Regions from separate parts of the Homo sapiens genome. Here all the other regions are linked to region 1. The links come from fine-mapping of genetic effects on gene expression. A gene starts in region 1. Each other region holds a variant in brackets. All regions are shown on one strand. Distances are from middle to middle.

Region 1 (2,752 bases):
TCTCTGAGGGGATAAATATTTTATCGAGGCTGTACCCATGTGTGGAGTGTCTTTACCAACAAAGGCCCATCTGAGAACTGTCTTTGGGAAGGAATATGGTCATTTAGCAGGGATCTGAGGCTGCCAACTTCAAGACGGGGTGGGGCTCTAGGAGCCTGAGAAACATACGACGTTCAGGTTTCAAAACTATGTCCAGGCAGCTTATTTGATCCCATGTAGGTATGGTGGCCTCTCCCGGGTGGAATTCCACTCTCCCAGGTGGGCCTCTCCCAGGCGGTCCTCTCTCAGGGGGTTCTCTCCCAGGTGGGCCTCTCCTGGGTGGAATTCCACTCTCCCAGGTGGGCCTCTCCCAGGCGGTCCTCTCTCAGGGGGTCCTCTCCCAGGTGGGCCTCTCCCGGGTGGAATTCCACTCTCCCAGGTGGGCCTCTCCCAGGCGGTCCTCTCTCAGGGGGTCCTCTCCCAGGTGGGCCTCTCCCGGGTGGAATTCCACTCTCCCACGTGGGACTCTCGTGGGTGGGCCTCTCCCAGGGGGTCCTCTCCCAGGTGGGCCTACCCCAGGTGGGCCTCCCCTAGAGCTCCCCTAGTGTGCCCACCCCGGGGTGAGTCCCGGGCCCTCCCCTCCCCAGGCCGACCCAAGTCCTTCAGTGGCTCCGGCTTCCCCGCGCGGGGGCTGCGCGCCCCGCCAAGCCTCCAATTCGGGTCGGTCGTAGGCGCCGTCCGGACCCCGGCCGGAAAGCAGCCCCGGCTGGGAGGTGGGGAGCCCCGGGGGGCAGGTGGCTGCGCTGCTACCCTCTCCGTGGGGGCCGGGGCTCTGCGTCTGCTCCTCCCGCCTCGGCCACCCCCTGCTGCCAGGTCTTAGCTCGTCCCCAGACCCGGCGGCCCCATCCACGCCCGCAGCCCGCATTTCCACTGCGCGACTTTCTGTGCCCGCTGCACTTCCAGCACCGTGGCAGGGGCAAATCACCGCCTGTTAAAGTAATGACGGAATGAATGAAAGAACGAAAGAATGAAGGAATGACTGACTGACTGACTGACTGACTGACTGAATGGATGAATGAATGAATGAATGAATGAATGAATGAATGAATGAATGAGCCGACGAGCGCAGGCGCGAAGGACGCAGTCGGAAGTTCCCGGGGAAGGTGGAGGGTGAGCCCGGGGTCAGGACCAGAACCCGGGCACACAGGAGCCCTGAGCGGGGAGAGGAGGCCCGCGCGGAGCCCCCGGCGTCCCCCCACGCCGCCTTCCCTCCCCTTTCTTCTTCCCGCCCCTCGCCGGGGGTCGCTGCCCTGGTGTCTCACTCCCGCGGAGCTGGCGGGGGGCAGGGCGGGGGCGCGGCGTTGTTCGCCTTCCCCGAAGTGTGGCCCCGCCGCCGACCCGTAGCCCCGCGTCCGCGTCCCTTTCGGTCTCCAGGCAACCGTGGCCGGGTCCTCGCGGCTGGAGAACCCAACCGACAGTGGGCGGCAGGACGCACCGCGGACCCCGGAGAGAGCGGACGAGCAGGGCGCCGGCGCCATGGACCTGGTCATCACGCAGGAGCTGGCCCGCGCCGAGAGCCAGCAAGGTGACCCCAGGCCCGCCACGACCCCCGCCCCGGGGAGGCCCCGGGACCCGCCACGACCCCCGCCCCGGGGAGGCCCCGGACCCTCTCATCCCAGCCCGCCCAATGGGTGATCCCTCGAGGGCCACAGCCGGAGCCCCCACCTCCCGATCGTCTGACCAGAGCAAACGTACAGGAAGGCGCCCACACCGCTGCTCCCTGGCGGCGACAGGTTCTGACGGTGGCTGTGGCCCGGGGGCCCAAGGCGGCTGCCTGGGGCCTTCGGGATGGCGTTGCCCGGCTCACTTCTCCCAGCCCAGTGACCAAACCTTCCTCAACCACCCGTTTGGGACAGATGCTGCGTCCTTGAAGAAGGCCTACGAGTTGATCAAATCGGCCAACCTAGGGAAATCGGAGTTTGACCCCTCAGAGAGCTTCAGCCCAGACCTGTTTGTTCTGTGTGCAGAGCAGGCCCTGAAGGTAACTAGTTCCCGGGATCCTCGGTCAGGGCAGCTTTGACAGGGAGAGGGAGGGCCTCTGGGTGTGCAGCGGATGCAGAGTGGGGCTGGGGAGAGGCAGCTCCTGGCCGGGCAGTCAAGGGGCCAGGATGGAGGATGGGGCTGGAAACAGGCTCCACCTGTGCTGGGGGCCTGTTCTGAAAGCGGGCCCGTGGTGCTTCTGGGCAGGGAGGCCACCCCTCCGGGTCTGTGATCTTCTGTGGTGGTGTTCTCTTGCAGATGAGGCAGCCAGAGGTGAGCGAGGACTGCATCCAAATGTACTTCAAGGTGAAGGCGCCCATCACCCAGTTTCTGGGCCGAGCGCACCTGTGCAGGGCCCAGATGTGTGCCCCGAAGTCGGCAGAAAACCTGGTGAGAGGCGTCCTGTGCCCCTTATCCCCAACAGTTCAATTTTCACCCCATCTCCAGAGCAATGCCAGGCTAGACCAGGCTTAAAATCGTTCTTAGGGTAGTAGAGTGAAGGAATTCCTTTCCAGAGTGACACGAAACTTGCACCATTTCCTGTCCATGCTTTTTGCTCAAGTGGTGATATCTGACACACAGGACCCCTGGACCTTTGCCTCGTAGCAGCGTGGTCTCTGTGGCATCTGCGCCTGCAGCTGCCCCGAGTGGGCACAGGGGAGCTGGGGTGGGGCGGGCGTGCTGGAGCACAGGCACTGCGGTTTCTGCTGCCTCGCTGTGTCTGCGGGACGGG
Region 2 (2,752 bases), 140 kb after region 1:
ACGATGGGGTGAGGCAGCTCCTAAATACCGGCTGACCTACAATGGGGTGAGGCAGCCCCCCCCCCCACCAATATCAGGCCCTAGGAGAGGAAGAGCCCCGGGGCTTGAGACCACAGGACTCACTCAGAAGGGAGGGCAGCGGTCCCATCACAAGTAGCTTTGCTCTTTGGGCTGTAGGGGTCGCTCCCCTCCCTTCTCCGCATCGCTGAGCCCCAGCCCTGCAGGGACAGGGCCTGAGACTTCCCAGAACCCTGTGCCTCTCTCCCTGGGCCCCGTTCTTGCTGACTGAAGAAATGGGAGGGAGTCAGAGAACCAGGGTCCCTTAGTAACAGACCCCCAATTCCTGGCCGGGTGTGCGGCCAGCCTCCCAGTGTCCCTTAGAAATCTCACACCTGTAATCCCAGCACTTTGGGAGGCCGAGGTGGGCAGATCACGAGGTCAAGAGATCGAGACCATCCTGGCCAACATGGTGAAACCTGGCCTCTACTAAAAATACAAAAATCAGCTGGGCATGGTGGCATGCACATGTAGTCCCAGCTACTGCAGAAGCTGAGGCAGGAGACTCGCTGGAACCTGGGAGGTGGAGGTTGCAGTGAGCCTAGATCTTGCCACTGCATTCCAGCCTGGCAACAGAGGGAGACTCCGTCTCAAAAAAAAAAAAAAAAAGGAAAAGAAATAGACCCCCCATTCCTGGCCAGGTGCACAGCCAGCCTCCCTTGCAACACGTGTGGCCATTTGACTAAGTTCTGGTTCAAGACACCTCCATAAAAGGAAAGGCTTGCTCTTTTTCCTTCCTGTCTGCAGGATGGGATGGAATTTGATGGCTGGAGCTTGGCAGCCATAATGTGCTATGAGGTGAAATCTACATGTTGAGGATGGCACAGCCACAGTTGCGAGGAGCCTGGGTCCTCAGTGCTCTTGGGGTCAGAAGCTTCCTGTCCTGACTAGCTCGCCTTGGACTCCATAAACATGAGCGAGCAACAGCATTGCCCCTGGTTTAGTTCTCACCAGAGAACCTGATCCCGTGGACGCGGTGGGACCATAGGACCATATGGACCACGCATGGGGGCAGGGGTCCCAGAGTCGTGTTTCCCCCTCCAAGGCAGAGTCCTTGAGAGCAGGTCTGCATGGGCTTCGAGGGTGGGGCCTGGGCCTGCTGCCCCAGGCTGCTATGGTCCCATAATCACTTCCAGGGTTGACAGGTGTGGTTCCCAAGGCTGCTCTGTCCTGCTCATCGAGGAATTCCAACCCAGGCAAGAGGCCAGGCGGTGGGGAGAGGAACGAGGAGGACTGTGGACAGAGGACCA[G/A]CCCACGTGAGCAAGGCTGCAGAGGGGATGGCCCAGCAAGAGGAAACACGGGTTCTGTTCTGGTTACACAGCTTCCCTGGGGAGGCTGAAGGGCCCAGCCATAGCAGAGCCATGAATGTGGAAAGAAGAACCCGGCAGGGGTGTCTGCATCCCCATGGTGGAGAGACGTCCCCACCCCCATCTCAGATGTCCCCGCCCCCACCTCGGAGAGCCCCAGCCACCTGCCACGTGGGGCCTGCACAGCTACCCCAAGTCCAGGGTCTCTGATGTCCGAATGAGAGGTGACAGCGTGCTGGCAGTCCTCACAGCCCTCGCTCGCTCTCGGCGCCTGCTCTGCCTGGGCTCCCACTTTGGCGGCACTGGAGGAGCCCTTCAGCCCACCGCTGCACTGTGGGAGCCCCTTTCTGGGCTGGCCAAGGCCAGAGCCGACTCCCTCAGCTTGTAGGGAGGTGTGGAGGGAGAGGCGCCAGCGGGAACCGGGGCTGCGCGTGGCGCTTGCGGGCCAGCTGGATTTCCGGGTGGGCGTGGGCTTGGCGGGCCCCGCACTCCGAGCAGCCGGCCGGCCCTGTGCAATGAGGGGCTTAGCACCCGGGCCAGCAGCTGCGGAGGGTGTACTGGGTCCCCCAGCAGTGCCCACCCACCGGCGCTGCACTCGATTTCTCGCTGGGCCTTAGCTGCCTTCCCGAGGGGCAGGGCTCGGAACCTGCAGCCCGCCATGCCTGAGCCTCCCACCCGCTCCGTGGGCTCCTGTGCGGCCGGAGCCTCCCCGACGAGCTCCGCCCCCTGCTCCAGGGCGCCCAGTCCCATCGACCACCCAAGGGCTGAGGAGTGCGGGCGCACAGCGCGGGACTGGCAGGCAGCTCCACCTGCAGCCCCAGTGCGGGATCCACCGTGTGAAGCCAGCTGGGCTCCTGAGTCTGGTGGGGACGTGGAGAACCTTTATGTCTAGCTCAGGGATTGTAAATACACCAATTGGCACTCTGTATCTAGCTAGGTTTATAAACACACCAATCAACACCCTGTGTCTAGCTCAGGGTTGTGAGTGCACCAATGGACACTCTGTATCTAGCTACTCTGGTGGGGCCTTGGAGAACATTTGTGTCCACACTCTGTATCTAGCTAATCTGGTGGGGACGTGCAGAACCTTTGTGTCTAGCTCAGGGATTGTAAACACACCAATCAGTGCCCTGTCAAAACAGACCATTAGGCTCTACCAATCAGCAGGACGTGGGTGGGGCCAGATAAGAGAATAAAAGCAAGCTGCCCGAGCCAGCAGTGGCAACCCACTCGGGTCCCCTTCCACACTGTGGAAGCTTTGTTCTTTCGCTCTTTGCAATAAATCTTGCTACTGCTCACTCTCTGGATCCACACTGCCTTTATGAGCTGTAACACTCACCGCGAAGATCTGCAGCTTCACTCCTGAGCCAGCGAGACCACGAACCCAC
Region 3 (2,752 bases), 45 kb after region 1:
TCAACAAGACAGAGGCCAGAAAGCAGGTGCACCAGCCCTGGAGGGGGCTCCTGACTCCCACTGAGGCCTCTAGTGGGTCTTCCAGAAAGGACCGGAGAGACTCCCAAAGAAAGACAGACCCCACAGGCCTCCCAGAGGGTGCACCAGCACCAGCCGAGGAGGGGAGGGGGTTAAGGGGGGTCTCCAAGTCCCAGCACTGCGGGGGCCCCTGCTGGACTCGGTGCTCAGACCTGACCTCTCCCAGCAACACACATGCACCGAGGGGCTCTCAGCCCTGGAGACACACAGCAGCGGGTAGAGTGAGGCCAGCACAGTCCCTGCCTTAAGAGGCTTGGATTCTAGGCAGGGAGGACAGGCCCCACCTGCCATGAGAGAGGGTGGCCCTGAGAACAGCAAGCAGAGGGCAGGGCAGGGGGCGGGGGCTGGGCCACAGGTGCCTCTGGCGGCTTAAGGCAGAGTGGGGTGGCGGGGAGTGGAGCCCCCAAGGCCCAGGGGATGGGGCAACCCAGGGAGGACGGTTGAAGGAGAGGGGCCAAGTGGACCCAAGAGTGCACCTCCTTCTAGGGCTGTTGGAGGGAGGCTAGGCATGGGTCCTGGAGTGGTCCTGCAGGCCTCTCCAAGAGCAGGAGCCTGGCCAGCTTCTCGCTGGGCACAGACTGGCAGGACAAGCCTCAGCCTTGTGGACTGGGCTTCCTGAGCAGGCGCTGGAGTTGGTGAAGGCTTCGTGCTCCTGGCTCACAGGTCTGTGGATGCAGCTCCCTGCTGGGAGATGGGGAGGCATCCCGCTCCTCCTGGAAAGAGGCTGAGACTCTCGGGTTGGGGTCAGTCTCCAGACCAGGGCTGAGCCAGACCAGCCCACTCTGAGCTCTCTTCTGCTGGCCTCAGCTGTAACCAGGAATCAGGAGTCAGCCACAGAGAACCCACAAAACGGGGCCCTTCTAAGAGAAGCAGAGCTGCATAACCCAAAGCTCCAGTGGGAGGAGGAGGACGGGAGTGGGGCACCAGACAGCAGGCAGAGACAGTGGGTGCGGCTACAGAAGCCGCTGCGCTGGATCCTCAGATGCATGCCCAAGGCAGCTTCTTGGCCTGACTTTGAAAAGGCTGTGTCGGGGCCTCTGGGCTGTCCAGCCCACCCCAGCCTCTCTCCCCATGCTGGCCTCCTCCGGGGGACTGCCTCCTCATCCAGTGTGGTCTAGGCAAAGGGACCCTCCTCGGCTGGCTCCCCCAGGAAGCCTGGGTCTGAGCTCTGTGCAGAGCTGCCTCTGGAGCCAGACTGGAGAGTACGGAGGCAAGCCAAGGCTGCTCCACCTGGCCTGCCGACCTGCCAACCTGCCAACCTGCCAACCCACACATGGCCATCCTGTGGGCCAGATGCAGCTTCCTGGCCCCAGGGCTTAGCCTCCCACTGGCGCTGCCCAGCACATTTTCTGGCTGCCCAGGAAGACCAGAGTAGATTTTTACTGCTTGTGACCAAGAGTCCTGGCTGACCTAGATATGCGGTTCCTACCAACCTGCGGTGTGCGGCGGGGCCTGTGAAGGGAGAGCCCACGGAC[A/G]GTGAGGGCCGTAGCAGACGGAGGTTCATGCCAGAGAGCCTCAGGACAGAGCCTGCATATTAATCCCTCAGCAGATACCTGATTTGCAAGTATTTTCTCCCATTCTCTGGGTTAACTTTTCACTCATTTGATCATGCCATTTGATGCATAAATGTTCCTAATTTTTAAGAGGTTCAGTTTATCTATTTTTTCTTTTGTTGCCTGTGTCTTTGGTGTCATATCCCTGGTCCTGCTACATCTAATACCATGAGGATTTTCTCCATTATTTTCTTCTAAGAATTTTGTAGCTTTAGCTCTTAAGTTTAGATCTTTGATCCATTTGAGTTAAGTTTTGCATATGGTATTAGGTAAAGGTTCAACATCAGCCTTTTCCATGTGGATATCCAGTTTTTCCAGCACCACTTGAAGAGACTGTGCTTTCCCTAGTGAATGGTCTTGGCACTGTTGCTGAAAATAATTTGACCAGAAATGCAGGGATTTATTTTGGGGCTCTCTATTCTATTTCACCGGCCTGTATGGTATCATTTTGCCAACACTATGCTATTTGAGTCACTGTAGCTTTGTCATATGTTTCCAAGTTGGGAAGTGTGGGTCCTCCAACTTTGTTCTTTTTCAAGATTGTTTTAGCTGTCTGGGGCCCCTTGCAATTCCATATGAATTTGAGGATCAGTTTTTTAATTCCATATGAATGTGAGGATCATTTTTTAAAATTATATATATTTTTAAAAAGACTATTGTAACCCATAGGGATTGCGTTGAATACTGCTTTGGGTAGTATTGACATTTTAACAATGTTAAGGCTTCCTATCCATGAACATGGTCTATCTTTTTGTTTATTTAGATCTTTAATTTCTTTCAGCAACCTTTTATAGTTTTTAGCATGTAAGTCTTTCACCTCTTTGGTTAGATTTATTACTAAGTATTTAATTTTTTAAGGTGCTGTTATAAACAGGAATGCTTTCTGTCTTAGCTTGGGCTGCCATAACAAAATACCATAGACTGGATGGCTTAATTTATTTATCAAAGTCTGGATCTGGAAGTCTGAGATCAGGGAGCCAGCGTGGCTGGGTTCTGGTGAGGAACATCTTCCTGGCCATCAATGCCTGGATGCCTTCTCACTGTGTCTTCATGTGGCACACACAGCCTGGCTGCCTTCTCACCATGTCTTCATGTGGCACACACAGCCTGGCTGCCTTCTC

Direction of the effects. Alleles are on the strand shown, and positions count from the first base shown. SD is a standard deviation of normalised expression in the study named. Not every link is listed here.
For the expression in cerebellum of the gene that starts at base 1,430 in region 1, A is the high allele of the variant in region 3 and G is the other (moderate effect, 0.72 SD a copy in GTEx).

Evidence for each region.
Region 2: its variant is fine-mapped to the expression of CFAP46 in cerebellar hemisphere (GTEx, PIP 0.95).
Region 3: its variant is fine-mapped to the expression of CFAP46 in cerebellum (GTEx, PIP above 0.99). The same link has a PIP of 0.9 or more in cerebellar hemisphere.

Annotation. Positions count from the first base shown.
Region 1 is chr10:132,941,248-132,943,999 of GRCh38, reverse strand. CFAP46 (cilia and flagella associated protein 46) reads left to right here and starts at 1,430. Exons shown (of 58, transcript NM_001200049.3): 1 at 1,430-1,564; 2 at 1,896-2,020; 3 at 2,278-2,409. The coding sequence starts at 1,516. It overlaps LOC105378572 (a long non-coding RNA gene), which reads right to left and starts at 633. Exons shown (of 3, transcript XR_007062348.1): 1 at 1-633. LINC01166 (long intergenic non-protein coding RNA 1166) reads left to right here. Exons shown (of 2, transcript NR_120627.1): 2 at 1-33. RefSeq lists enhancers at 950-1,533, 1,534-2,117.
Region 2 is chr10:132,800,332-132,803,083 of GRCh38, reverse strand. No RefSeq gene overlaps it. Among named protein-coding and RNA genes, the nearest start is that of NKX6-2, 16 kb to the right of the region's middle. The variant G/A (reference allele first, on the strand shown) is at 1,308.
Region 3 is chr10:132,896,233-132,898,984 of GRCh38, reverse strand. CFAP46 (cilia and flagella associated protein 46) reads left to right here. Exons shown (of 58, transcript NM_001200049.3): 24 at 1-26. Among named protein-coding and RNA genes, the nearest start is that of CFAP46, 45 kb to the left of the region's middle. The variant A/G (reference allele first, on the strand shown) is at 1,554.